Linked DNA regions of Homo sapiens. The protein of the gene in region 1 interacts with the protein of each later gene in a pairwise test. Each region holds a gene or a part of one and is shown in the gene's direction. Other genes may lie near its edges. The genes, in order: TRIM37, DZIP1L, MCM10 and PRC1.

Region 1 (7,728 bases):
TGGGAAAAAGTCCTGGATCTCACCTCCGTATCCTTTTTTTTTTTTTGAGATGGAGTCTCACTCTGTCAACCAGACTAGAGTGCAGTGGTGTGATCTTGGCTCACTGTAACCTCTGCCTCCCAGGTTCAAGCAATTCTCCTGCCTCAGCCTCCCGAGTAGCTGGGATTACAGGTGCCTGCCACCACACCTGGCTATTCTTTTGTATTTTGGTTTCACCATGTTGGCAAGGCTGGTCTCTAACTCTTGACCTCAGGTGATCTGCACACCTTGGCCTCCCAAAGTGCTGGGATAACAGGCGTGAGCCACTGCACCCAGCTTCTCACCCCAGTATTCTTGTTCAGTGTATCTAGGATGTAATTTTAAAAACTCCTTCAGCTGACTGACATACAACCCAATTTGGGAATTCCTTAGTAAAAGAAAAGAGGTAAAAACAGTTTTCAGCTGGGTGCGGTGGCTCACACCTGTAATCCCAGCACTTTGGGAGGCTGAGGCGGGCGGATCACTAGGTTAGGAGATCCAGACCATCCTAACACGGTGAAACCCCGTATCTACTGAAAATACAGGTGTGGTGGTGCATGCCTGTAGTCCCCACTACGGGAGGCTGAGGCAGGAGAATCGCTTGAACCCAGGAGGCGGAGGTTGCCGTGAGTGGAGATCGGGCCGCTGCACTCCAGCCTGGGCAACAGTGAGACTGTGTCTCAAAACACAACAAAGAACAGTTTTCAATGTGAAGGGGAAATCGTTTTCTGTTATTTAATAGGAATTGCAGTAATACAGAGGCTGGGAAGAAAAACTGTCAGTGAGATAATAATCCTTAGAAGAGGAGGCAGAAGTGGGAGACAGTGAGAACATGAGGATGTGAAAAGCATAAATTATTAATTGGCTTGAAGCTTCTGAACAATGGAACTTTCCTCCTAAGTTATATCCTGCTGGATCTCTCTGAAATACTCATGGGTAGTTGGAACCTGACTTTTTAATATTTTATATTATCTACTTTCCTGCGTGTAGCATTGTTTTAAAATGTTCTATCTCTTTAAAATATATTTAAACAGCTTTATTGAAGAAGGTCAGTTTTAAGCAACATTTCCATATCTGGTATTTGTTATGCATTATACTAGGTGCTAGAGAAAAGTCAGATGCTTTTCTTGGCTTAAAGAGCATAGTCCAATATAGGGGTATAGGCATAATATCTGCCTACAGATGTCTGTAATGTGCATCAGTCATTAACATGACAGTCCAAAAACTTCAAATTGTACCCCATTATTTAATCAAAGTAGAAAAAGTCTACCAAACTGTCATGACCTATACATTTTACTGTCCAGAGACTTGGGGGAGATTTCTATTTTGGTGTCTAATTCTTTGTAATCTGTTATACTATGGGAATTTGTCTTCTTTTATCTAAAACCAGGTGGTCATGGGATATAATCTCCTTCTCCTTACCCTTACCTCTCATCCCCCCAATTGTGCACATCGTACACATTGTCATCTGTTTTTTTCTAGGGCTCAGGATGGGGTTGAGGCTTGCTTCTGAATTCTAAGTACTAATGAGGCCACCACTCAATCACTGTGCTAATGTACAACTGTCTGGTTCCTTCTTTCTTTTTTTTTTTTTTTTTTTTTTGAGACGGAGTCTCGCTCTGTCGCCCAGGCCGGACTGCGGACTGCAGTGGCGCAATCTCGGCTCACTGCAAGCTCCGCTTCCCGGGTTCACGCCATTCTCCTGCCTCAGCCTCCCGAGTAGCTGGGACTACAGGCGCCCGCCACCGCGCCCGGCTAATTTTTTGTATTTTTAGTAGAGACGGGGTTTCACCTTGTTAGCCAGGATGGTCTCGATCTCCTGACCTCATGATCCACCCGCCTCGGCCTCCCAAAGTGCTGGGATTACAGGCGTGAGCCACCGCGCCCGGCCCTGGTTCCTTCTTTCTGCTTCTTATCATGAACCTGAACTCCTAAGAGATAGGTCCATAGACAAGTATTCATATAATGTTAACCAGTTCATTTTTTCATTTAAGTATAGCTAAGTTTGTGCATATATATATCATTTTCTACGCCTCTTTTGCAGGTAGTAGCCATGGTTATGTGGGTTCCAGTAGTAGAATATCAAGAAGAACACATTTATGCTCCGCTGCTACCAGTAGTTTACTAGACATTGATCCATTAATTTTAATACATTTGTTGGACCTTAAGGACCGGAGCAGTATAGAAAATTTGTGGGGCTTACAGCCTCGCCCACCTGCTTCACTTCTGCAGCCCACAGGTAAAATAATAACAATGATAATTTCCTTTTTTTCTGTGGTTCTCTAAAAGAACTCTTGGATTTTCATTTAAGTATTTCAGCTATGTGTGGAACATGGTGTATTTCTGTGTTTTTCATTGTATACCATAAAAATGACATTTATGTCAACCAAATTAGTTTTTAAATTACCGTTCAAAGGTGATTTGTGCAAAAACAAAGTAAAAATGCCTGCAAGAAGGTTTTTTGTGACTTGCTACTCAGATTTTGCCTGACAGTTTGATCCATATGAAATACGGTTATCTTCTTTATGAATGGACTTTTTTTGGTCAGGCTTCATGAATTCCCTTACTTCCAAGTGGAACTATATCTAAATTGAACGTAGAAAAAGGTGACTTACTCATTCTTTGATGTTCAGTAGCTTAAAAATGTATGCCAGTTGGCAGCACTGTTTTCTGTGCAAAGGTTATTTGTTAAATAGAAATTACATTTGTGTTACTATAATAAAATGGAGATTTGTATAGTCAAATATGGGCTTTTTTAAACTCTCGGGGATAGAGTCATTTTGGACAACTAAGTATTTGCCTTTAAAAGCTACATTTTAAAAACCATTTTTGTTGGAATGCTTTCTAAAGTATAGTCAGTATATTCAAAAATATATGCCAAATATTTTTCTACCTTCTTAAACAATAGTATTATATACATCAAATCAATGATTTAGAACTCTGATTTTGATGTAGTTTTAAGGCAAGATAACTCATTTTTCAATCAAAGTCCAAGGCAGAACCTCTGTGTAAATAACAGAGAAATAGAGCTCTTCTACTGGTGTAGGGACATGGAGCCCAGATTATTTAGGCTTCTTCTTTCCTAAGAGCCAGATATACTTCCTGAAAGTCTGGATCCTCAGCTTAAAAGACTATCTTCAGGTTATGAAACAGTTGCCTTTTATGTGTGCGCCAAGTATGCTTTATATAAAGTTTTACTTAAATGTTAAGTGTTGTTTGCAAAGGCCCAGTGAAACAGACAGGTTCTGATTCTGTAGGTAGATATGTAAGTTGGTTTAACCTTTTTGAAGGACAATTTTGTAGTAGTTTAAAAATATCTATATCCTTTAAACTTGTAATTTCACTTTGAGGAGTATATTCCAAAGAGAAAACAAGCAGATGTTTAAAAATATTCAACAATACAGTTATAGCTGAATAAATTACAGTGTAACCATGCAATGGTATATTTTATAGACAAGTAAAATCGTGTTTTTGAAAATAATCAGTATCATTGGGAAAAATGCAAACTAAATAGTAAGATTTCTGTGTAAAACTAGTTTTCTGTGTAAAAACAATACAAATGAGATGATCTGAATTTCAAATTTAGGTGATAAAATGCTGGCAATAATGAGGGCGGGGAAAATAGTAGAAAGAAAAAGCAAGTTTTGGATTTAAACATCTTGAGTTGGGCATAACAGTGTGACATCAAATTAGAAAGGACCAGTAGACAGCTAAAAATTAAGAACTGGGGCTGGGCGCAGTGGCTCACGCCTGTAATCTCAACACTTGGGGAGGCTGAGGCGGGTGGATCACCTGAGGTCAGGAGTTCGAGACCAGCCTAGCCAACATGGTGAAACCCTGTCTCTACTAAAAATACAAAAAATTAGCCGGCCATTGTGGCAGGTGCCTGTAATCCCAGCTACCTGGGAAGCTGAGGCAGGAGAATGGCTTAAACCTGGGAGTCGGAGGTTGCAGTGAGCCGAGATCGTGCCATTGCACTCCAGCCTGGGCAACGAGTGAAACTCCATGAAAAAAAAAAATGAACTGGAATACAGACAGTTATTTTTCTGGAGGTGATACTGGATAATTAAAACCAAGGGTGTGAGATTGCAAAGGAGTTTTAAGAATATTTTAAAAGAAGAGAGCCAGGAACATAATCCTGATGAATATCTGTTTTTACTGAGTGTCAGGAAGATGAGCCAGATAAAGAGCTTTTAGAAAGGAGAAAAAATACTCATGGAAGCCAAATGAAAATACCTTTCAGTGAAGGGATGTTAATAAAAGCTAGTGTGCAGAAATATATGACTTTCTTTTTATTGAAAAGGCTTGCTTGGGTCATTTTTTGTTTGATTGATTGTTTGTTTGTTTTTGAGACAGAGTCTCACTCTGTTGCCCAGGCTGGAGTGCTCTACAATTTTTTGTAGAGACAGGTTTCACCATGTTGGCCAGGTTTGTCTCAAAACTCCTGAGCTCAAGTGATCCACCTGCCTCGGCCTCCCAAAGTGTGCTGGGATTATAGGCGTGAGCCACTGCACGTGGCCTGCTTGGGCTTTGATGTTTATTTTTTTCTGTGTATTTATTTAACACATATTTAGTGAACATTTGTCAGATTAACTTCATGTTCTTAACCATGTAAAGGAGTACTGTAAAAGGTATCAGGTAATCTAGTTGAACCAGATTTTAAGGTACATATAGTGGTAAGTAGAACTAGAGTCATGTTGGGTCCATTCTATGAAAGGACTTGCATGCTAGCCGGAGGAATTTATTCATACTAGGCATGGAGAGCTATTGTTTTATTTTAGAAGTGGTTAGATTCAAACCGTATTTCAGAAAGCTGACAGTTCTGAGAAAATTATCAGAAATGGAAGTTCTAATAAAAAAATTTTTTTTTGTACAGATAGGGTGTCACTATGCTCCCCTGGCTGATCTTGAACTTCTGGCCTCAAGCGATTCTCTCACCTCAGCCTCCTGAAGTGCTGGGATTACAGGCATAAGCCACTGCACCTGGCCAGAAATATGTATTTTTAATATAATGTTATATATGGCAGATTTGACAAAGTATTTGGTTTCTAGATTTTTCTTTGTCTTTTTTTTCAATTATAAACATAATAAAAGCTCTGTAGAAAGTTTCAGAAAAGTGGAGAAGTTTAAAGAAGAAAGCACAAGGCAGTAGGGCAGCTTTTAAACTTTTAGAATTAAATGTGTAATTCGAACTTGAGTATGATGTGACTCAGATTCTAACTCTGAAGGTGTGAATAAGGTAGGATTCTTTATCTTTATTTTCATTAATGGAATTTAGTGCATGTTTTATTGTTGATACCACGTAAAGCACGCTAGCTTATTTTACACATCAAATTTGCATATATTCATGGTACAAATGATTTCATTAATATTAACGTTTATGTTAACATGACTTGTCAATTTCTCTGAAGCATCATATTCTCGAAAAGATAAAGACCAAAGGAAGCAACAGGCAATGTGGCGAGTGCCCTCTGATTTAAAGATGCTAAAAAGACTCAAAACTCAAATGGCCGAAGTTCGATGTATGAAAACTGATGTAAAGAATACACTTTCAGAAATAAAAAGCAGCAGTGCTGCTTCTGGAGACATGCAGACAAGCCTTTTTTCTGCTGACCAGGCAGCTCTGGCTGCATGTGGAACTGAAAACTCTGGCAGATTGCAGGATTTGGGAATGGAACTCCTGGCAAAGTCATCAGTTGCCAATTGTTACATACGAAACTGTAAGTAATATGTTCCCAGTGTCATTTCTCCACACGTTATTTGGGAAACTAGATGACTGGTTTTTTCAAAAGAATAATATTTAAATACCACTCTTCCAGTGAGTTAAGACTACAAATTACATGTGACTTTTTTCTTCATCCAAAATTGATTCCGTATATTTTTACTATATAATAGAACTAACATTTCTTGATTGCTTACTCTGTATTTGGCAATAAACAAGACAAAATTCTTAACATCATAGATCTTGTATTCTAGTAGTGGGAATCAGACATTAAAAAGTGTAGACAAGTAAGTAAAGATCATTTCAGTGGGTAAAAGGTGCTGTGAAGGAAACAACCGAGGAGTGGGATGGGAGGAGCAGATGAGACATGTTCTATTGGGGTAGTCAGAGAAAGTCTCTGTGAGGAGGCAGCACTTGACCTGAGACCTGAAGTTTAGGAAGGTGGCAGCTATTTATAGATCTAGGGCAAGCAGTGTTCTGGGTAAACAGAACAGAAACTGCAAAGTCACTGACACAGGATTTATTTTGCGTATTTGAAGGATTGAAGGAAGACCAGTATGGCAAAGAAAGCAGAGAGAGGAGACTAGCAGGAGACGAAGTCAGAGAGAGGTAGGCAGAATTTAGATCAGGGAGAGTCTTGCAAAACCTCAAAAAGGAGTTCGAGTTTTATTATGATGTAAGGAGGAAGCCTCTAGAGAATAAAAATAAGGGGTGTTTATAATCTGATTTACACTTTACAAAGATGACTTTGCTTGTTGTGTGGAGAAGGGTCTGAAAAGGGTTGAGGACAGGAATTGTGAGACCAGTAACAGCCTATTACATTATCTTGTGTGAAATATGATGGCATTTTCTGGAGTTACAATAATGGATAGAGGGGCTTGTTCACAGTCTAGCAGCCTTTCTTGACTGAGGTTCCCATCTTTCTTAGTTCTCTTAAGGATGTGCTATTCTATTCTAGATGCATAGGAGGGAAGTTAATCCAGTCTTAGATCAGCAGGGCTGAGTTCTTTCTCAGAACCATAGTTGAAAAAGCCTAAATAGAATTTTAGGAAAGTTCTATTTAGAAAGAAACTAAGAATTATGATTAAGTTTTGGCCTAAGCAACTTAATAGGCAGTGGTATCATTTATTGAGAAGCAAATCAGATAAGAAGCAGGTTATGGGGCTTGGGAGGAGGTAAGGGCAGAAAGTTGGGTATTCTTTTTTAAACATGTTTAATTTGAGACACCTGCTAGATATCCTAGTAAAATGTCATAGACACGTGAATGGTACACAACTTTGAAACTCAGAGAGAGGTCAATGCTGGATATAAACAGTTGGGAGTCAATAGTATTTTATATTATTTAAATCCAGAAGACTGAATAGGGTCAAGTTTGGAGGGAGTTTCAATGGAGAAGCAAAATTTTTGACTCTGTGGCACTTAAACATTTAAAGATCTGATAAATAGGAGAGGCCAGCAAAGGAAATTGAAAGAGCAATCATTAAGGTAGGAGAAAAACTAGAAGGGATAATATCTCAAAAATCAAAAATAATGCATCTCAAGAAGTAGAGTGGTTACCCCTGTGTTAAGTGTGTTAAGTATCACTGAGAAGTGTCAAGGCAAGAGGCCAAGTGGCCTTTTTAAGAACTATTCCCATGGAGTAGTGTAGCAGAAGAGTGAATGAGGTCAGGGACCAGAGCACAAATGCACAACTTCTTTAAAAGAAGTTTCACAATGAAGTGGGTAGAAGCTGGAGGAGGTGCGGGGTCAATAGTTTCTTGTTGGCAGGGGTGTCCTTTTTTGTGTCCTCTCCAATGTCTTTCATCTGTGAATTAAATCCATTTTAAAATTGGGTTGGGTTGTTTATTTGTAGTTGACTTTTAGGAGTTCTGTATATATTTTAAATATTTATCTTTTATCACATATATGATTTGCAGATGTTTTCTCCCAGTGTGTGGGTTGCCTTTTCCCTCTGTGGATTGTGTCATTTAACATTTGAAGTTTTTAAT
Region 2 (7,728 bases), on another chromosome or scaffold:
GTAGAAAGTGAAAAATAAAAGTCCTGTAATCTCTATTTTCACTTCCCAGAGGCAGCCATTGCTAATAGCTTCTTGTCTATCTTTCCAGAAACAGTCTATGCTTATGAAATAATATACATAAGTGAATCATACATATGAATTATAAATGAGCATATTTTATTCATTATAAAACTAATTATAACAAATATGAGTCTTTCATATGTATGTGTGTGTATGGGTGTATATATATGTTGACTCTCCATATCTGTGGATCTGCATCCACAGATTCAACAAACTGCGGATCAAAAATATTTGAAAAAAAAAGGATAGTTTCTTCTGTACTGAACATGTACAGAGTTTTTTTCTTGTCATTATTCCTAAATAATTAAGTATAACAGCTATTTTTATAGCATTTACATTGTATTAGGTATTATAAATAATCTAGAGATGATTTAGAGTGTGTGCGAGAATGTGTATAGGTTATATGCAAATACTACACCATTTTGTATAAGCAATTTGAGCATCTGTAGATTTTGGTATCTGAGGAGGGTCCTGGAACCAATCCCTCATGGACACTGACAGACGACTGAATATGTATATATATATATATTTATATAAAATGATCATCATTGGTCTGTGAAGGCCTATTTACCTGTCTATCTGACCATCACCACCCACACACCATCCATCCATTTATTTATCCCCATTCCACACTCCCATTTCCCTCCCTCCTCTCATAGACAACCATTCTAATATGATATATATCTTTCACTTTGGTGAGTTATTAAATATGATTATATTAATATGTCATTAAAACAGAAATAGAGGTATATATGCCTATTTTGTGTGTGTTTACATATATATATATTGGAGATTATCATTTCATATCAGTACATGTAAGTCTGCTTTATACCAATCAATAGCTGCATAATATTCCATTGCATAGAGATACATTGTACTTTGCTTTCTTCTACTTTTTCTTTTACTTTGCTTTTATAAAAGATGCTACAATGACAATTTTTTCACAAGTACCTTTGTACATATGAGTTTGTAGCATAATTATAATTTTTAGTAGTGGAATGTTCAAAATTCCCATTGATATTGTCAAATTACTTTTCAGAGAGAACAGTTCATATGCTCACCAAGAGTTTAGAGAGTAGAATCTGAGTCTTGGCAAAGAAACTAGAGATCTTTTTACTTAACTATTAAGTTAAAAAAAAGCCCATGATGGATTGAGCACCATGTGGCAGAGACTCCGTAACTCTCTTAAGCCCCTCCTGACAGGGGTGGACATCATTTCACTCACATTCCAGGAGAGAGAACTTAGTCATATGATCACACGTTATTGCTGGAGAAGCTGGGAAAGGTAGTTCACTCGTGTTCCATTAGAATCCTGTAGTTATATGAGAAAGAGAAGACAGGGTGGACATTAGGAACCTTGGTCACTCACAGCAAGTTGTCGGACTTTATCTTGAGATAAAAATAGGGTTGCAGAAGGACCCATTTGTAAATTTGATAGTCACCTGCTGACAAAGGCCTTTGCCAGGCATTCCTGCAGTGGAGGTGGGCTTTGCAGAGGGGGCTCACTGAGGACCTGCTATGTGCCAGGCACTAGGCTGGGTGCTTCACTTGCCTCATTCCTCACCACAGGCCTGCACAGTGGGACCCATGTTCCTCCTTAGACACAGGAGGCTTAAAGATGTGCAGGGACTTGCCCAAGGCAGAGCATTCGAATCCACATCTGTGTGATTGCAAAGCCCATGTTTTCTTTCCACAGCTCTGGCCATGTCAGCACACACCATGAATGCTACAGCTGCTGCACAGACACCTCACTTTGCCCCGCTTAGGCCCTTGCTGGCCAGATATACAGTAGGTGCAGCCACACACACCTCACCTAACTTGGACTCTCTTCTTATTTTCCAGGCCTTCTCTCAGCTCCTTGGCCTACTGCCGTGGCCTTGGTGCCCCCCTCCTCTGGTGGTCAGCTCAGGGCTTCCTCTGCCCATGCAGTCCCCAGCTGCCACTGCTGAGGGCCTCAGTGGCCCCCTCTTTGGGGCCTACACGTTCCCCACCTTCAAGTTTCAGCCTCGCCATGATAGCATGGACTGGAGACGCATTAGCACCCTGGATGTAGACCGCGTGGCCCGGGAACTGGATGTGGCCACTCTGCAGGAGAATATTGCTGGCATCACCTTCTGCAACTTGGACCGGGAGGTGTGCAGCCGCTGTGGGCAGCCTGTGGACCCGGCACTGCTCAAGGTGCTGCGCCTGGCGCAGCTCATCATTGAGTACCTGCTGCACTGCCAGGATTGCCTGAGTGCCAGTGTTGCCCAGCTGGAGGCACGGCTGCAGACCAGCCTGGGCCAGCAGCAGCGTGGTCAGCAGGAGCTGGGACGCCAGGCTGACGAGCTCAAGGGTGTGCGGGAGGAGAGCCGCCGGCGTCGCAAGATGATCAGCACCCTGCAGCAGCTGCTAATGCAGACAGGCACCCACAGCTACCACACGGTGAGGAATCTCCACCAGGCAGGGAGAGTGGGAGGGCTGTGTGCCCCAGCCACTGGGGCAACTGTTGCCACTGGGCAGCACTGCTGGGACCTTAAGGCTGCTGGGGGGCTGTTCTCACTGGTTAGGAGCAGATTTCAGAGATGCTGCTCATGGCCAGAGAGCCTGGGGGTGTCTCATTAGGTTCTACAGTGTGTGTGTGTGTGTATGTGTGTGTAGATTGTACATGTGTGGGAGGTGTGCGTGTTTATGGAGAGGGTACATGTCTAGTGTATGTATATGCATGAATGTATGGCGAGTGTGTGTGTTTGTAAATGATGTGAACATGTGTGTGTGTTTAATGTGTGTGTGTGTGTGTGAATACTTGAAGGGTACCTCTGTGTGTATGTAGGGTGTGTGGTGTGTAATGTGTGCTTGTACTATGTTATAAAGGATACAACTCTGGAGCATGTATAAAAAGGTGTATTAATAGTGTTAGTGACCAAGAAGCAGCTTCTCTGCTCCTTCTGGAATCTCCGCCTGGTTCAGCCCACCTGCCTCCACTCCTGCTTCCACCATGTTCATCAGGGTGACCCAGAAGTCCTACAAGGTGCCCACCTCTGGCCCCCAGGTCTTCAGCAGCTGCTTCTACATGAGTGGGCCCAGTGCTGGCATCAGCTCCTTGAGCTTCTCCTGAGTGGGCAGCAGCAGCTTCCGGGGTGACCTGGGCGGAGGCTATGGTGGGGCCAGTGGCATGGGAGGCATCACTGCCATCACTGTCAACCAGAGCCTGCTGAGCCCCCTTAACCTGGAGGTGGACCCCAACATTCAGGCCATGTGCACCCAGGAGAAGGAGCAGATCAAGACCCTCAACAACAAGTTTGCCTCCTTCATAGACAAGGTATGGTTCCTGGAGCAGCAGAACAAGATGCTGGAGACCAACTGGAGCCTCCTGCAGCAGCAGAAGACGGCTCAGAGTTAACATGGACAACATGTTCAGAGCTACATCAACAACCTTAGGCAGCAGCTGGAGACTCTGGGCCAGGAGAAGCTGAAGCTGAAGGCAGAGCTTGGCAACATGCAGGGGCTGGGTGGAGGACTTCGAGAACAAGTATGAGGATGAGATCAATAAGCATACAAAGATGGAGAATAAATTTGCCTTCATCGAGAAAGATGTGGATGAAGCTTACATGAATAAGGTAGAGCTGGAGTCTCGCCTGGAAGGGCTGACTGACGAGATCAACTTCCTCAGGCAGCTGTATGAAGAGGAGATCCGGGAGCTGCAGTCCCAGATCTCGGACACGCCTGTGGTGCTGTCCATGGACAACAGTCACTCCCTGGACATGGACAGCATCATCGCTGAGGTCAAGGCACAGTACAAGGAGATCGCCAACTGCAGCTGGGCTGAGGCTGAGAGCATGTACCAGATCAAGTATGAGGAGCTGCAGATGCTGGCTGGGAAGCATGGAGATGACCTGCAGCATACAAAGACTGAGATCTCTGAGATGAACCAGAACATCAGCCGGCTCCAGGCTGAGATTGAGGGCCTCAAAGGCCAGAGGGCATCGCAGATGCCGAGCAACGTGGGGAGCTGGCCATTAAGGATGCCAACGCCAAGCTGTCCGAGCTGGAGGGCGCCCTGCAGCGGGCCAAGCAGGACATGGAGCGGCAGCTGCGTGAGTATCAGGAGCTGATGAATGTCAAGCTGGCCCTGGACATCAAGATCGCCACCTATAGGAAGCTGCTGGAGGGCAAGGAAAGCCGGCTGGAGTCTGAGATGCAGAACACAAGTATCCATACAAAGACCACCAGCGGCTATGCAGGTGGTCTGAGCTCGGCCTATGGGGGCCTCACAAGCCCTGGCCTCAGCTACGGCCTGGGCTCCAGCTTTGGCTCTGGCGCAGGCTCCAGCTCCTTCAGCCGCACCAGCTCCACCAGGGCCACTGTGGTTGTGAAGAAGATAGAGACTTGCGATGGGAAGCTGGTGTCCGAGTCCTCTGACGTCCTGCCCAAGTGAACAGCTGTGGCAGCCCCTCCCAGCCTGCCCCTCCTGCGGCTGCCCCAGAGCCCAGCGGGGGAGGCTGCTGTGCAGGGTAGCACAGGGAACGGGAGACCCACCTGAGGCTCAGCCCTAGCCCTCAACCCACCTGCGGGGGAGTTTACTGCCTAGGGACCCCCCTTGCCCATGCCTCCAGCTACAAAACAATTCAATTGCTTTTTTTTTTTGGTCCAAAATAAAACCTCAGCTATCTCTGCCAAAAAAAAAAAATAGTGTTTGTGTGTGTGTGAATGAATGAAGGGTATATATGTGTGTAAGAGTGTGTGTTTGTACTTATGGAGAGTGTATGTAAGGATGAGTATGTAGAAGAAGGATGTATATGTGTCTAAGGGTGTATTTATAGAGGGTGTGAGTGCGTGCATATTTATATATGATGGAGGATTTGTATGTGTATGTAGAGGAGTGTGTTGTGTAAAGGTGTGTGTGAGGGGTTTGTGTGTGCATGTGTTGAATCTACGTGTGACAAGGGATTGGTGGAGCCAGGCCTATTCTGGAATACTGACTCCATTATTCAACCAAGTGACAGTTCATTTCCCAAAGCAACATGGAGCGTTTGCATGTGTCTCCATGGAAGTATGGATTAGGGACATTTGCCCTTTAATAAAAATTGTCATGGTGGCTAGGCCCTGTGCCAGGCTCTGAGGATGTGGGCACAAATCATGCTGGTTCAGGTTTTTAAGACATTCATAGTTTACGGATGGATGGGTTACCTATTTCTGCTTATAACACTTCTGACACCAAATGTGTGTTTTTCTTCCTCACACCAACCAATTCTCCAATGCCACCTGGGTGCCCTTCAATTCAATTCTGACACTATCTACCTGGAGTTAGCATCAGATCCCATGAGTTAAGGGATCAGTCCCACAAGACTGGCCCCACTTCAGATACCTGGGCCTCCTGTACTTCTGACTAACTGGCTACAAATTGAGGGTTCCCATAACTCCATCTTGAGGTTCAATAATTTGCTAGAATGGCTCACAGAACTCAGGAAGAAGACACTTTATTACTAGTTTATTATAAGGATAGAAGTCAGAACAGTCAAATGGAAGAGATGCACTTGAGGACAAGAGAGGACAAGGTATGGGAGAAGGGACTCGGAACTTCCCTGCCCTTTCTGAGTGTGACATCTCCTAGCACCTTAGTGTTTACCAATCTGGAAATTCTCTAAATCCCATCATTTAGGGGTTTTATAAGATTCCACCAAGCATGCATAATTGATTAAATCATTGGCCATTGCTTAGTAGTCCAGCCCCTCTTCCCTCCCTGGAGGCTGGAGGGTGGGGCTGAAAGTTCCAACCCTCTACCCATGCCTTGGTCTTTCTGGTGACCAACCCCCATCCTGGGGGGATTACCTGAGCCCGGCATCTTAATCGTAATGAGAGCTGATGAGCCAAAAAAAAAAAAAGGATGGGGGTTGGTCACCAGAAAGTCATTTGCGGGGTGGGGCAGAAGGTGCCCAGCCAACAGTCCTTTCATTAGCATACAAAAAACACTGTCTTAGTAAGTTTAGTGTTGCAATAAAGGAATACCGAAGCTGGATAATTTATAAAGAAAAGAGGTTATTTGACTCACAGTTCTGCTGGCTGGAAGGTTCAAGACTGGGCACCTGATGAGGGCCTCTGGCTGCTTTCACTCCTGGTGGAAGGTGAAGGGGAGCTGGCCTGTCCAGAGCTCATTGCAAGAGAGGAAGTAAGGGGAGAGGAATGCCAGGCTCTTTCTAACAACCAGCTCTGTCAAACTAATAAGAATGAGAACTCCCTCACCCCCAAGGGAGGGCATTAATCTATATATGAGGGATCTGCCCCATGACCCAGATACCTCCCACTGGGCCCCACCTCTCAACACTGCCACACTGGAGATTAAATTTCAACATGAGATTTGGAAGGGACAAACATTCAAACAATAGTAGACACTCTTATTACTCTGGAGATTCCAAGGATCTCAGAATCTCTAAGACCAAATATTATTACAAAAGGTGCTTTACTGCCCTTATCACTCTGAAGATTGTAAGTTAGGTGTGTCCAATCTTTTGGCTTCCTTGGGCCACATTGGAAGAAGAAGAATTGTTTTGGGCCACACATAAAATACACTAACATTAATGATAGCTGATGAGCTAAAAAAAAAAATTCCTAAAAAAATCTCATAATGTAAGTTTACAAATTTGTGTTGGACTGCATTCAGAGCTGTTCTGGGCCACATGTGGCCTATTGGCTGCAGGTTGAACCAGCTTGTTGTAAGTGTTTTAGGACCTCCTTGCCAGAAACTAGGAAGGAACAAAGACCAAATATACATTCTTTTTTATTTTTTGAGACAGGGTCTCACTCTGTCATCCAGGCTGCAGTCTGATCATGGCTCACCACAGCCTTAACCTCCCAGGCTCAGGTGATCCTCCCACCTCAGCCTCCTGAGTAGTTAGGACTACAGTCACCTACCACCATGTTTGTCTAATTTTTTTAGAGACAGGGTTTCTCCAGGTTGCCCGGGCTGGTCTCGAACTCCTGGGCTCAAGTGATCCGCCCACCTCAGCCTCCCAAAGTTCTAGGATTTTAAGTGTGAGCCACTGTGCCCAGCCTACATTCTTATTGTATCACAATATCACAGTGGGACAGAAGGAATCGTTATGATATATTATTAATTGATAACAAATTGATATAATTGATATGATGTTTATGATTAAAAGGGTCAGAACCCTTTTAGTAGTAAGTCCTGTGGACACACCTGGTTGCTAGGAAGGTTGGGACATAGAGTGTTTATTCTCATTGGCCACAGACTTACTATTACCAAGGAAGAAAGGGAAAATGGGTATTGGGGGACAACTGGCAATTCCTGTCACAATTGTCTGCAAAGATAGCAAATAATCTGCCTATGGATTAACTAACAATGGCAGCCTCCAAAGCTGTGTTGAGAAGAATTCTGAAATTTTACAGTGAGAAGACGATGTGATAGATTGCTTATGTCTAAAATGTCTTAGGAGAGGGATGTGGAATTACAGATGCTGTTTATTTGCTAACCTCTCTGCCTCTGGTGTTTCTCCACCCTGGGATGGGACCTAGACATTGGCATATTTTAAAAACTTTTTATTATGGAAAATTTCAAACATGTACAATAGTAGAGAGAATAATATAATGAACCTTTATCTACACACTAACAGTATCAACCCATGGGCAGTGTTGTTGCATCTCTTCCCCTGCCCACTTTCCCTCACTTCT
Region 3 (7,728 bases), on another chromosome or scaffold:
ATTATGAAAGCACCCTGATCTGGGTTTTATAACCTGGAGGCTACTTGGCTTATTGAGCTCAAGTGTTGTAAGAGATCTTGTCCTAGGAGGGGTGAGGACAAAGCCCGAGCTATTCAGGACAGTCCCTCTTGGTACAGTCTGTCCAAGAAGAGAATTGCAAACAAGAAGGGAGAGAGCTGAGTTCAGCAAGGCCCTTGAGGGACTTGTCTCCCTCCAGTCATCTCCATTCAAGGCAAGAAGTGAAGAGGAAGGGGGAGCCAGCCTCCTAACTCATTTTGTCAGGAAAGCAGAAGCTTCCCTACCAACTCCTGTTTATGTCTGAGCATCTAGAACTTATCACATAACCAATGCTAGCTCTAAGGAGTGCTGGGAGAACAGGGAACAGGATCTATGACCTGAGGCTGAGAAGTCAGCCAGCCTAGAGAAAATCAGGATTCCAATCGCAAAGATGAAGGAAAGGATGGAAAATGGGAAAAGAACTGAAGGTGCCTTCTGCATCCCTGTTCCTAAAACGGTTATAGAGCCCTGGCTTCAAATTCCTTTAGACCACTAAAACCTCTCTCCTTTTTGAGACGGCCTCACTCTGTTGCCCAGGCTGGAGTGCAGTGGTGTGATCACAGCTCATTTCAGCCTGGACTTCCCAAGCTCTAGTGATCCTCCCACTTCAGCCCCCCAAGTAACTGGGACTACATGCACGCACTACCATGCCTGGCTAATTTTTGTGGTTTTTTGTAGAGACAGGGTTTTGCCACATTGCCTAGGCTAGTCTCAAACTCTTGGCCTCAAGCGATCCACCTGCCTCGGCCTCCCAGAGTGCTAGGATTATAGGTGTGAGCCACTGCGCCTGGCAATAACCTTCTTAAATCAGCACCAACCATTCTTTTTTCTATTCCTGCTAATAAAAGGCCATAATTTTGTCCGCCTTTAACTCCTGCCCCACCTTTTCTTACAGGTGTGTTTATCTATCGATCATCCTCAGAAGGTCTTAATTATGGGTGAAGCTCTTGACCTGGGAACCTGTAAAGCCAAGAAGAAGAATGGAGAGCCGTGCACGCAGACTGTGAATTTGGTTGGTTTCAGCCTTGTTAGGATGGTTTCTGCTAAAGAAAAGAACAGTTAGGAATAAACTGTTGGTGCTTTAGCTGTGATGACCAGTTTGGAACTGAGTTTCCCACTTAAAGGAAGAGTCAAAATGAGAAAATTTAATGTGTGGTTAATAACTGCCAGTTTAAAAAAGTGAGGGCAGGGGAAAGGTGAGGGGATTTAACCTCTTAGGAAAGTGATCTTTTATCTGACCAAGAAGTTTAAGACAGAATTTTTGTTTGCCTTTAATTCTTGTAATTCCACAGAGCAAACATGATGAAATACAATGAAAATTGTATTTTAGCCTATATTTTAACTCCATTATACCTTTTCTTAGGGCTTTTTAAAAAATAATAGCTTCATTTAGGTATAATTCACATACCATGCAATTCACCCTTTTAAAGTAAGCAATTCAGGCCAGGTGTGGTGGCTCACTCTTGTAATCTCAGCACTTCGGGAGGTCGAGGCGGACAGATCATCTGAGATCAGGAGTTTGAGACTAGCCTGGCCACCATGGTGAAACCCCATCTCTACTAAAAATACAAAAATTAGGCGGTCATGGTGGTGGGCGCCTGTAGTTCCAGCTACTCAGGAGGCTGAGGCCAGAGAATCACTTGAACCTGGAAGGCAGAGGTTTCAGTGAGCTGAGATCGCACTATTATACTCCAGCCTGGGCGATAGAGTGAGATTCTGTCTCCAAAAAAGAATATAAATAAATAAAGTCAACAATTCAGTAATTTCTAGTACATTCACAGAGCTGTGCAACCATCACCACTGTGTAATTTCAGAACCCTTTCATTGCCCCAGAAAGAAACCCAGTACCCACTAGCAATCACTCCCCAGTCTCCTCTCCCCCAGCCCCTGGTAAGCACTAACCTACTTTCTGTCTCTATGGATTTGCCTCTTCTAGACATTTCATATAATGGAATCACAATATGTGGCCTTTTCTGTCTGGCTTCTTTTGCTTAGCATAATTTTTCTCACAATTGATCCGTGCTGTAGCATTTATCAACACTTTATTCCTTTTTGTGGGTAAATAATATTCCATTGTATGGATATACCATACGTTGTTTATTCTTTCATCAGTTGATACACGCTTGGGTTGTTGCCACATTTAGCTATTATGAATAATGCTGCTAAAACACTCACATACAAGTTTTTATGTGGATGTATGTTTTCCACTCCCTTGGGCATATACCTGGGAGTGGGATTGCTGGGTCAACATGGTAACTGTCCAGAGTTTGGAGGAACTGCCAGACTGGTTTCCCAAGTGGCCCACCAGCAATGGATGAACTTTCCAGTTTCTCCCTGTCCTCATCAGCACCTGTTACTCTATTTCTTTTTTGTTATAGCCATTGTAGTAGGTGTGAAGAGGTACTTCTTAGAGTTCTTTGAAAGGATTAAATGACAGGTTTTGGTTTAATCTTTTTTTATTCCCTTATTCCTTCCTATTAGATTAATTGGTGGACAGGAAAGAATAAGGTGGGAGACGGTTGGAAAATGAGGTTTCAGAGTGAAGTACCCAACAGATCTCCCCGTGAGAATTAGATTCTTAAAAATCCATTGTCTGGATGGGGCGGTGGCTCACACTTGTAATCCCTGCACTTTGGGTGGCCGAAGTGGGCCGATCACTTGAGGCCAGGAGTTCAAGACCAGCCTGGCCAACATGGTAAAACCCCGTCTCCAGTAAAAATACAAAAATTAGCTGGGCGTGGTTGTGCACACCTGTAATCCCAGCTACTTGGGAGGCTGAGGCAGAAGAATCACTTGAACCTAGGAGTTGGAGGTTGCAGTGGGCCAGGATCACGCCACTGCACTCCAGCCTGGGTGACAGAGCGAGACTCTGTCTCCAAAAAAAAATCCATTGTCGCCGTAACTACTGTTCACCCAGCAGAACAATGCTGCACCATCTCTCTTTGTTTCTTTCACTGAAAGGATAGCACTTGTCCGAGGATCAACCAGAGAAACAGCTAGAAAAACCTCGCTGGGAGCTGATTTTGTTTTTAAATTATTTTTTATTGGGTCAAAATTCACAATATACAGTTAATCATTTTAAAATACATATATAATTCAGTGATATTTAGTTGTGTAACCACCAGCTCCCTGGTTTCAGAATTCCATCACCCTGTAAAAACAATGGCACCATAAAGTCATCACTCCCATCCCCACTCCCTCCGTCTCCTGGTGACGTCTAATCTGCTTTCTGTCTCTATGGATTTGCCTCTTCTATAAAAACTTCCTTTTATATTAAATAACATAGGTCCTATATTAAATAACATAGGACCTTGTGTGTCTGACTTCTTTCACCTAACTTGTTTTCAAGGTTCATCCTAAAAGCTGATTTCCTTTGTAGAAAGAGGGCAAGGGGTATTTCACCAGAACAGTGCTTTCAGGGGACTCGAAGGGAAGAACTTCTTCCCCTCAGGGACTGAGCAGCCCTTCCACATTGGGAACGGTCGTGGAGGTCAGCAGGGAGGACTCTGCATGCGTCATGTTCCGGGAAGTGGGGAGAAGGAACTGTGTCTGCTCACTGCTGTTTCCCAGCCTGTTGCCCTCATCCTGATGCCACTGCTCTGCCTTTTGCAGCGTGACTGTGAGTACTGTCAGTACCATGTCCAGGCTCAGTACAAGAAGCTCAGCGCAAAGCGTGCGGATCTGCAGTCCACCTTCTCTGGAGGACGAATTCCAAAGAAGTTTGCCCGCAGAGGCACCAGCCTCAAAGAACGGCTGTGCCAAGATGGCTTTTACTACGGAGGGGTTTCTTCTGCCTCGTATGCAGCTTCAATGTAAGACGTTCTCGGGCTTCTTTTGGGCAGAGGATTTTGCTTATCAAAGACTAAACCTACTGGTTGTACCTTCCTGTAACCGTCATAGGATACTTGTACAGGTTTTATCTTTCATAACTCACTACTTGAAACAAGTTGGTTAAAGACCGCTTTTATTCCCAGGTAGAGAGAAAAACTTTCAGGAGAGAGAGAGATTGACTTATGTTGTGTTGGACTTTAAGAGAGCCCACTCTTCCTCTTCAACTTTTTTTTTTTTTTTTGAGACGGAGTCTTACTCTATCACCCAGGCTGGAGTGCAGTGGTGCAGTCTCAGCTCACTGCAACCTCCAAGTCCTGGGTTTAGGTGATTCTTCTGCCTCAGCCTCCTGAGTAGCTGGGACTACAGGCGCGTGCCACCACGCCCAGCTAATTTTTGCATTTTTGGTACAGACAGGGTTTCACCATGATGGCCAGGCTGGTCTCGAAATCCTGACCTCAGGTGATCTGCCTGCCTCGGCCTCCCAAAGTGCTGGGATTACAGGCATGAGCCACTGCTCCCAGCCCCTCTTTGACTTCTAATGTGAATAGTGCACCTTCATCAGGGCCATTAAAAATGTGTTAATTACAGTGTTAACACCCTTTTAATTATTTCTCGTATGACTATATGAGTGAGGCTACAGACCTCATGGAACCCAAATTTCATTCAGTGAGTGAATATACTATGAAGCTTCACATGGGGAGTGGGGCGATGCTGGGCAGGCATCCATGGCCCCTTGCCTGGGGGTTCAGAGTCACTACAGCCCCTGACGCTGTAATCCAGGGGTGTCCAATCTTTTGGCTTCCCTGGGCCCCTTTGGAAGAATTGTCTTGGACTACACATAAAATATATTAATGATAGCCTATAAGCTTAAAAAAAGAAAGAAAAGAAAAGAAAAATCTCTTAATGTTTTAAGAAAGTTTATGAATTTGTGTTGGGCCGCATTCAAAGCCATCCTGGGCTGCATGTGGCCCGCAGGCTATGGTTTGGATAAGCTTGTAATCAGTGGCCTCGTCACTACATTATATAAAGCATATCTGAGGACTTGGCACGAGGCAGCTACAGTTGGTCCAAGAATAAAACATAGATTTTTGTTCCCAATCCAGCAGGAATGGGGCAAGAGGACTCATTTCCTGTTTCTTTTTTAACAGTAAGCATGTTTTTGAGATTTAAAATTATTTCTGAATTTTTCCAATCTGCTAAAACAATACATGTATATTAGTCTTTTAAAAGAACATACAATCCAACCAATGGAGAAAATAAAAACCAACTATAATCCTATCACCTGAAAAACTGTTAGTTCTAGGCCAGGCACAGTGGCTTACACCTGTAATCCCAGCACTTCGGGAGGCCAAGGCAGGAGGATTGCTTAAGCCCAGGAATTTGAGACCCGCCTGAGCGACATGGCAAAACCCCATCTCTACAAAATGCAAAAAAAATTAGCTGGGCATGGTGGCACATGCCTGTAGTCCCAGCTGTTTGGGAGGCTGAGATGGGAGAATTGCTTGAGCCTGGGGAAGTTGAGGCTGCAGTGAGTCAGGATTGCTCCACTGTACTCCAGGCTGGACAACAGAGTGAGATCTTGTCTCAAAAAAAAAACCCCAAACTGTTAGTTCCTTGGTATATATACTCCTAGGTGTTGTGTTTCTTCATATGTGTACATTTTTAGTAATATAAAATGAGATCATATTGTTCCTATTCTTTGTATCCACTTTTTTTCCAGTGTAAAATAATTAATGTTTTTCTCATGTATTTTCAGTGGCTACATAGTGTTCTTTTGCATACTCTGCCTTAATTCATTTAAACAATTCCCTGTGGGTGAACGTTAATGGTGTTTCCAATGTATGACATTATAAACAAAGCTGCCATTAATATCCTAAATTTTTGCATAATCCTTAATTATTTTAAGATAAATATCCAGACTGCTGGATCAAAGCATTGGCTTTTTTTTTATTTCTTTTGCCAAATTTCCTTCCAGAATGGCCTCAAGTGGATTTGTAGGCTGCCTCTAGCTTTTCCTCTGTGACACAGTGCATAAACCAGTTATGCTATTGGGCCGTAACATTAAGAAAGCCTACTTAGATGGTGTTTTGAGAAACTTTGACGGTGTGTGTAATAAATGATGATATCTATGCCTTCTTTACCTCATCAGAGCATTGAGGCTTTAGTGATTCTCCTTTTGGGGGTGACTTGTCATTTCAGTGCAGCAGCTGTGGCTCCTAAGAAGAAGATTCAAACCACTCTGAGTAATCTGGTTGTTAAGGGCACAAACTTGATCATCCAGGAAACACGGCAAAAACTCGGTAACTTTGTTTTTCCATAAGAAATTTCTTTCTCCAGTTTAATTATGCAGCCTTAGGGATAAAAGACTACACATTGGGTACAGGGTACACTGCTCCGGTGATGGGTACACCAAAATCTCAGAAATCACCACTAAGAACTTATTCATGCACAAAAATAAATAAATAAGCAAGCAAGCAAGCAAGCAAGCAAGCAGTCTTTAGGGTTGAAAATGGATACAGCTCATACTCTTAAGTAATAAGAATCCAGTCATCACCTGTACTTAGTGAGTGGCGCGGTCTAACCTAAAGGAATCAAGCCAGGTTTGCAGGACCTTAAGGAAAAAAACAGCATATTGATTTTAGCTATGTCTTACCTTAGTATGCTTTTTAAAATTTCTTGGTGTATCTGGGTCCAACTCTTTACATCCAGCATTAGAATCAGCAGTATTATCTTCCTGGCCAAGCTTATTGGTTATCTTTTGTTAAAATGGGTCTTGGTCATAAAAACAAAAAAATTTTTAATAAAATAAAAACAAATAAAAACAAGTCTTGATCAGAGAATGCAGCCCCCATCCTGGGCTTGTGGTCAGGGACCCTTATCCTTAGCGGATATTCCAGAAACAGGGTATGGAATGACCCCCAGATTTAAGGGCTTAATATTCTAATCATTACTAGAAATAAAATATAGTCGAGATACCCTGCCATCCTATGAGTCTGATGATAGAGGTTAAGGATTCTTTTCTTTCCTCTTGGGATTCCGTCTTCTTCGTTTACGTATGACTAAAATTACAAGTGCAGAGTTTAGAAAGTGGTATGTCATATGACCTCAAACCATCTGAATGTGAATCCTCTAAAGCTGGTGTTGACCTGGCACAGGAATACCCCAGAAGAGCCTGTCTTGCTCTGAGGAGTTCAAGGAACTGATGGACCTGCCGACGTGTGGAGCCAGGAACTTAAAACAACATTTAGCCAAAGCCACAGCTTCAGGTACCATCAGCTGCATGGCCACACGTGTGTCCCTGTGTTCCCTCAGCCTCCCAGGGCACCCCCTCAGTCTGGGCTTCTGTTTCAGGGATTATGGGGAGCCCAAAACCAGCCATCAAGTCCATCTCGGCCTCAGCACTCTTGAAGCAACAGAAGCAGCGGATGTTGGAGATGAGGAGAAGGAAATCAGAAGAAATACAGAAGCGGTAAGAGGAGCAGATTTAATATTCCCCGCTTGGGTCATCCATCTCAGGCGTCCTCAGAACGTCTTCATCGATTTCCAGAATGTGACTTCAGGTTTCGGTTGGCTGCGTTTTAACTCTGAAAGTTTAAAATAGTTTTCCCATAACCTGAATAGCATTTAAGGCTGTATTATTTCTTACACTGGTGACTCCCAACACCAAATGGTACAGGTTAGAGTCGTTATCACCATGGAAAAGGGAAAGGAGTGAAGTGTATGTAAAGAGGGTTTTTGTGAAGGGGGAGAGCGTAGGTTCACATGCTGGCTGTCATTTTCTCTCTCTCTCTCTTTTTTTTTTCTGAGACGGGTTTTCACTCTGTCACCCCAGCTGAAGTG
Region 4 (7,054 bases), on another chromosome or scaffold:
GTTTGGTTTGGTTTTGAAGTCCCTTCTTGAAATTTGAGGAGGCTGGGTGCGGTGGCTCATGCCTGTAATCCCAGCACTTTGGGAGGCCGAGGCGCATGGATTGCTTGAGGTCAGGAGTTCAAGACCAGCCTGATCAACATGGTGAACCTCCGTCTCTACTAAAAATAAAAAAATTAGCCGGGCATGGTGGTGAGCACCTGTAATCCCAGCTACTCAAGAGGCTGAGACAGGAGAATCTATTGAACCCGGAAGGTAGAGGTTGCAGTGAGCCGAAAGCACGCCATTGCACTCCAGCCTGGGCAACAGAGCGAGACTCCATCTCAAAGAAAAAAAGAAAAAGAAAAAAGAAATTTGAGGAGTTTGGTATTGGTGTTGGGAGTTTTTTTCCTCCATTGCCCCAAACTTATGGACTGTTTTCCCTCTTGTAGGAACTCCTGGATATGATGATTGCTGAAGAGGAAAGCCTGAAGGAAAGACTCATCAAAAGCATATCCGTCTGTCAGAAAGAGCTGAACACTCTGTGCAGCGAGTTACATGTTGAGCCATTTCAGGTCCGTGGCAGCCCACAGGGTCTCTGGTGATCTGTCTGGGGCCTGAGACTTAGAAAGCAACGTTGACTTGGGCCTGCAGATGGAAGGCTTCCTCGTAGGGATGGAGCTAGACGTAAGAAGTGGGGAAAACATGCTGTGTAGTTAATTAGGCCCAGCAGAGTAATTCTCACCTCTGTAGAGAGTTGCCCTGGTAAGAGGTGAAGCAACTAATAGATGATCAAAAAGAAGCTGCTGCTTACCATAGTTTTGCTTTGTAGGGAATATGAATTTTTTTTTATAAACGCTGAGAAAAAGGTAGGCATAGATGGTGCTGCAGTGTTCTTTCTCTGAAAGAAAATGAAAACAGGAACAAAAGTAACTAATGATTAAAAGGAATACTATGAAAACACCAACCTTTGTGGGTTTTATCATACCCAGAAGCTGCATACCACTGAACCAGCCAAAATGGCTTCTTCAGAAGAAATGTCTCAAAAGCTGGAATACTGGGAGTGCATAGTCCATTTCAGAGCATGCCATGACATCCATCTGGGTATGGAGCTGAGAAGTGGCTATATTGTGGTCCACTGCAAGTCAGGGACTTGAGTGAGGACACAGCAAGGATGAAATGAATAACAGATGGGGTCCTGAAAATCTCTGCTTAGAACCAGTAAAAATAGTGCCAGGATCATAAAAATTAGGACAGATGTGGAGCTTGGAAAGACAATGAGTACACCCATAAGGTTCTCAGGTCCCTCTTCCTGTTACAGGAAGACCTGCCTGGATATCTATTTGGAGTTAGCTTAGGAGGGAGATCACCTTTAAAGGGCAAAGGATAATTCATACTTGGTAGCCAAGAGCAATCAGGCAGAAGAGAACATGAAGTGGAGCTTCCTGGAGTCAACATAAATGTCATAAATATAATTGATTTTGGACATAGTTTCTCTTTCTTTTTTCACATTCCATGTGAAATTGGGCGAGAAGTGAGGTGTACAACGATCATCTCCCTTAAGTTACCTGATGTTCCTAGTTCACAATGTTAAATGAAATTGTGTAAATGTATAGGACATTTAAGAAAAATGTATATGTCCTATAAAAAAATGCCACTTTTTTTTTTCTTGTTAACCAGTTAGGAGTAGAGCAGGGACTACCAGATGGGTTTTTGTTGCTAAGGTGAGACGATGTTCATAGGATTAGCAGGATGAGTATTTAGATATGAGCTAGGCATGCCACCCTATAGCTAACCCAAAGCAAGCTTTCCAGCCAATTTACACTGTTATTTCTTTATTTATTTAGAGACAGAGTCTCGCTGTGTTGTCCAGGCAGGAGTGCAATGGTGTGGTCTCGGCTCACTGCAACCTCCGCCTCCCGGGTTCAAGCGATTTTCCTGCCGTAGCCTCCCGAGTAGCTGGGATTACAGGTGTCCGCCACCATGCCTGGCTAATTTTTCTATTTTTAGTAAAGACGGGGTTTCACCATGTTGGCCAGGTTGGTCTCAAACTGCTGACCTCGTGATCTGCCCACCTTGGCCTCCCGAAGTGCTGGGATTATAGGCGTGAGCCACCGTGCCTGGCTGCCAATTTACACATTCTATAAAAGTGCCTGGTGCCTGGAGTAGTCTAATCATAGAGACAAAAGGTAGAATGGTGGTTGCCAGGCTTGGAGAAGGGAAAAAATGGGGACTTATTTGTTTGAGTATGAAGTTTCACTTTTGCAAGAGGAAATGAGTTTTGGAGGTGATGGTTATGATTGCACAACAATATGACTGTACTTAATACCAATGAACTGTACACGTAATGGTTAAGATGGTAAATTTTATGTTATATGTGTTCTACCACAAGTTTTAAAATTGGGGGGAAAAGTACCCTGGTACTTACTCACTTTTCCTCACTGGGACCTTCCTTAGGAGACCCTCTTTGTGCCATATTCTGTTGACCATGAGTTGACTTACTTGTTAGTTTAACTGAAAGTCTGTCATCCACGCCTTCTTATGTTGTCCTTCTCTTCCTCTGAAGGAATTCACTTGGAATCTTATAACAGTGGTACGTTGTCTTATTCAGGAAGAAGGAGAGACGACCATCTTGCAACTAGAAAAAGATTTGCGCACCCAAGTGGAATTGATGCGAAAACAGAAAAAGGAGAGAAAACAGGAACTGAAGCTACTTCAAGAGCAAGATCAAGAACTGTGCGAAATTCTTTGTATGCCCCACTATGATATTGACAGTGCCTCAGTGCCCAGCTTAGAAGAGCTGAACCAGTTCAGGCAACATGTGACAACTTTGAGGGAAACAAAGGTACACTGCCTACATTTGTTCTTCCTAAAAGTCACTTTGGTTTTCCTCTAGGTATCTTGTAATTGCTTTGTTTTAAAGGCTTCTAGGCGTGAGGAGTTTGTCAGTATAAAGAGACAGATCATACTGTGTATGGAAGCATTAGACCACACCCCAGACACAAGCTTTGAAAGAGATGTGGTGTGTGAAGACGAAGATGCCTTTTGTTTGTCTTTGGAGAATATTGCAACACTACAAAAGTTGCTACGGCAGGTACTGTCTTCTCAAATTATGCCCTAGGATCTCCGTAGTATATAGCAGTTTGAACAAAACTGACAGCTGTTTCTTCAGTCTTAAATAAGGAGACAATGTAAGGTAAGAGAATGAGGGAAGCTAAGGATAGTAATATATGATATACAACCTTGATTTTTGTTTAACAGTTAAAAAACCTTTATATGGCTCCAAGAAAATGAAATTATAGATGAAATAATATTAGTCATTTGAATTAGACTAGTGTTTAATTAAAATTTTTTTCAGTTCTAAATTTGAATGCTAATTCTTGGGGTCTGAGATCCCGACAGCCTTACAGCTCGTGTTTAGGAGGCATGAAAACATGCTACTTTGAACTCTCATGAAAGTGCCTCCTCCTCTACTCCAGACATTTCTTTGCGGGAGGCTAGAGGGCTAGCCTCTGTGCTGCTGCTTTGCCGTGAGTGACACTGGCTTTCTATGCTGTAGCTGGAAATGCAGAAATCACAAAATGAAGCAGTGTGTGAGGGGCTGCGTACTCAAATCCGAGAGCTCTGGGACAGGTTGCAAATACCTGAAGAAGAAAGAGAAGCTGTGGCCACCATTATGTCTGGGTCAAAGGCCAAGGTCCGGAAAGCGGTAAGAAACCCAGTGGGTACTGGGTCAGCAGTCTTCTCTTAGCACTTCTGTGTTAGTCATAAAGACTGTTGTTGATTTGGCCAGGCTCAGTGGTTCATGCCTCTAATCCCAGCACTTTGGGAGGCCGAGGCAGGTGAATCATTTGAGGTCAGGAGTTCGAGACCAGCCTGGACAACATGGCGAAACCCTGTATATACTAGCCAGGTGGTAGTGGCGTGCGCCTGTAATCCCAGCTACTTGGGAGGCTGAGACAGGAGAATCGCTTGAGCCTGGGAGGTGGAGGGTTGCAGTGAGCCAGAATCGCGCCACTGCACTCCTGTCTGGGCGAGAGAGTGAGACCCTGTCTCAAAAAAAAAAAAAAAAAAAAAAAAGTGTTGATTTATAATACCTTTGTGGCTTTGCATTATAATTTTACTTAAAAGGGGGGGATCTTTTGCAAACCTGAGTGAATATAAAACTATGGCAGCCACCCTTAACAAGTTTCTTTCTTTCAGCTGCAATTAGAAGTGGATCGGTTGGAAGAACTGAAAATGCAAAACATGAAGAAAGTGATTGAGGCAATTCGAGTGGAGCTGGTTCAGTACTGGGACCAGTGCTTTTATAGCCAGGAGCAGAGACAAGCTTTTGCCCCTTTCTGTGCTGGTTAGTACAAGAGTGAGGTCTTTGGTTTGTTTGTTTGGAGACAGGTCTTACTCTGTTGCCCAGCCTAGTCTCAAGTTCCTAGGCTCAAACAATCCTCCCAACTTGGCCTCCCAAAGTGTTGGGCCACCACACCCAGCCAAAAGTGGGGTCTTCATGTGGCCTGCTCACTAGTTTTTAAGACATCCAGACATTCAACAGGAAGTATATCCTTTTCTGAACAGATAAAGCCACCTTTTCAAGACATTTAGCATAATTGCCATTCCTGTATGAAAAAGCATTTGCAAATTTTATTGGGAAATATTGGTCTCTTGCTTTCTGAAGCAATATGTCACTGTAGCCTCTAGCTGTGAAGCTTAAGTTTTTATCAGGTGCTTACTTTTTGCCAGGTGCAGTGTCAAACCCTTAATATTATTTCACATCCTCATGTCAAGAGGTGAGGATACTAAAGCACATAAATGCTGAGTCATTTAACCCAGAGACATATAATGGTAAATGCCAGAGCCTACGTTTGAGCCAAAAGGAGCTTGACTCCTGGAGTCCAGTTGAATGCTAGTCTGAACTGCACTGAATATAAAGATGGAGCTACCCCAACTAAATTCAACAGATGTTTTTGCACATTTTCTGTGATCCACCCCTCTACTGGCTGGGCAAGACAGAAAAGCAGAATATGAAAGAAACCGAAGACAAGGCAAGAGATGATGCAGATTTTTGACAACATTATTTTAGTCTCTATCCTAGTCTCTTAGGCCCTACTCCCCCAGGCTGATTGTGACAAAGCTGGTTTTTATTAACCACTATATATCTATTACACACACACACACGCCTCTTCCTGTATCAGTTTACTATAAGGAAAGAATCTATTTCCATTTTAGGGAATCGGGGATTCGTAAAATTGGATACTAAATACTAGAGGAATTGTTTTAAACTACTGGGCCTATATTTTGCAGAGGACTACACAGAAAGTCTGCTCCAGCTCCACGATGCTGAGATTGTGCGGTTAAAAAACTACTATGAAGTTCACAAGGAACTCTTTGAAGGTGTCCAGAAGTGGGAAGAAACCTGGAGGCTTTTCTTAGAGTTTGAGGTATTGTCCTAGTTTTTGTGTTTTTAACTGTTAAGAAAGCATGCCATGTACGGAATCAATCCAGTTAGCTTTGTTCTTTGCCAGGCTTTTGATACCCCATCTTTATCATTAAGTCTCTCTGAATTTCTGCTGACCGCCTCTGTTTGATAAGCTTATCTACAGGGTCTTTTAAGAGAAAAGCCCAAAATTAATGGCTTAAATAAGGTAGGCATTTCTTGCATGAATGAGGTTCAGAGGTGGGCAGTGTGGGGCAGGCATGGCAGATCTGCACAGTGAGCAGGACCCCAGGCTTCTCCGGCTCAGGGCGCTCCCCCACCACTAAGGGTGGACCTCATCTTCAGGGCCAGGATGGCTGCTAGAGCTCCCACCCTGATGGCACTTTTTTTTTTTTTTTTTTTTTTTTTGAGGTGGAGTTTCGCTCTTGTTGCCCAGGCTGGAGTGCAATGGTGCGATCTTGGCTCACCACAACCTCCACCTCACAGGTTGAAGTGATTCTCCTACCTCAGCCTCCCAAGTAGCTGGGATTACAGGCATGCACCACCACACCCGGCTAATTTTTTGTATTTTTAGTAGAGATGGGGTTTCACCATGTTGGCCAGGCTGGTCTCAAACTCCTGACTTCAGCTGATCTGCCCACCTCGGCCTCCCACAGTGCTGGGATCACAGGCGTGAGCCACCACGCCTGGCCTGATGGCACATGTCATACAGTGTGGTGGAGGAAGGAACAAAGAAGGCATTGCCCCTCACTCCTTCAAGAGCTCTTCCCGGCTCTCTTCACAGCACCGTGGCTCACATGCTCTGTCACCTGCTGGTGAGGCTGGGTGAATTGCTGCCCCAGGTAAATTCTGGTTCTGTTAAACTAAGGAAGGAGAGAAGAATGGATGTTGGGGCAGGCAACTAACATTCTCTACCATTCCAACTTTTGCTATACTTAGAATATTGCATGGGTATTGATTCCTTTTCTTCTGATAGGCAACATGGTGGGTTCCTTCAGAGCATTTTAGAGCTCAGGGACTGTGGTAAAGCAAGTGAGGTGTGTAGGGCACAGATGGAAGGAGACCTTGTTCTCGGGTTCATGCTGGCCCTGTTAGAGCTCAGAGGGCCTTCAGAGAATCTGAATTCAACTCCTTCAAGTTTACAGGCAGCAAACTAGGACTCAGAAGTGGAGAGAACTATGGGATATCTTACAGCTGCTTAAGAACAGATGTCTTTGTCCTCAGTTATTCTTTACTTCTGGTTACAACAAGAAGAGTAAACATAAATAAGGAGGCCAGGTGTGTGTGGTGGCTCACGCCTGTAATCCCAGCACTTTGGAAGGCCGAGGCAGGCAGATCAGGAGGTCAAGAGATCGAGACCATCTTGGCTAACACAGTGAAACCCCGTCTCTACTAAAAAAATACAAAAAAATTAGCCGGGCATGGTGGCGGGCACTTGTAGTCCCAGCTACTCGGGAGGCTGAGGCAGGAGAATGGCGTGAACCCGGGAGGCAGAGCTTGCAGTGAGCCAAGATCGCACCACTGCACTCCAGCCTGGGCGACAGAGCGAGACTCTGTCTCAGAAAAAAAAAAAAAAAAAAAAAAACGTAAATAAGGAGCTAAGGCAGCAACCTTTGTTGACATGCCAATATTTAAGAAGAAAACAAG

Evidence for each region.
Region 2: the proteins of TRIM37 (region 1) and DZIP1L interact in binary tests that used the Homo sapiens proteins (3 or more experiments, as listed by UniProt).
Region 3: the proteins of TRIM37 (region 1) and MCM10 interact in a two-hybrid assay, tested with the Homo sapiens proteins (2 studies listed by BioGRID and IntAct).
Region 4: the proteins of TRIM37 (region 1) and PRC1 interact in binary tests that used the Homo sapiens proteins (3 or more experiments, as listed by UniProt).

What each region holds. Positions count from the first base shown.
Region 1 is NC_000017.11:59,026,425-59,034,152, reverse strand, and holds part of TRIM37 (E3 ubiquitin-protein ligase TRIM37), read left to right. Parts: intron 1-2,062; coding exon 2,063-2,257; intron 2,258-5,429; coding exon 5,430-5,738; intron 5,739-7,728. UniProt on the Homo sapiens protein: E3 ubiquitin-protein ligase required to prevent centriole reduplication. Probably acts by ubiquitinating positive regulators of centriole reduplication.
Region 2 is NC_000003.12:138,098,227-138,105,954, reverse strand, and holds part of DZIP1L (cilium assembly protein DZIP1L), read left to right. Parts: intron 1-1,902; coding exon of another isoform or gene 1,903-1,983; coding exon 1,984-2,484; intron 2,485-2,961; exon of another isoform or gene 2,962-4,719; intron 4,720-7,728. UniProt on the Homo sapiens protein: Involved in primary cilium formation. Probably acts as a transition zone protein required for localization of PKD1/PC1 and PKD2/PC2 to the ciliary membrane.
Region 3 is NC_000010.11:13,185,212-13,192,939, forward strand, and holds part of MCM10 (protein MCM10 homolog), read left to right. Parts: intron 1-952; coding exon 953-1,069; intron 1,070-3,669; coding exon 3,670-3,869; intron 3,870-6,087; coding exon 6,088-6,188; intron 6,189-7,043; coding exon 7,044-7,154; intron 7,155-7,239; coding exon 7,240-7,357; intron 7,358-7,728. UniProt on the Homo sapiens protein: Acts as a replication initiation factor that brings together the MCM2-7 helicase and the DNA polymerase alpha/primase complex in order to initiate DNA replication. Additionally, plays a role in preventing DNA damage during replication.
Region 4 is NC_000015.10:90,977,515-90,984,568, reverse strand, and holds part of PRC1 (protein regulator of cytokinesis 1), read left to right. Parts: intron 1-428; coding exon 429-551; intron 552-790; exon of another isoform or gene 791-877; intron 878-2,478; exon of another isoform or gene 2,479-2,587; coding exon 2,588-2,821; intron 2,822-2,899; coding exon 2,900-3,070; intron 3,071-3,535; coding exon 3,536-3,685; intron 3,686-4,179; coding exon 4,180-4,327; intron 4,328-5,274; coding exon 5,275-5,411; intron 5,412-7,054. UniProt on the Homo sapiens protein: Key regulator of cytokinesis that cross-links antiparrallel microtubules at an average distance of 35 nM. Essential for controlling the spatiotemporal formation of the midzone and successful cytokinesis.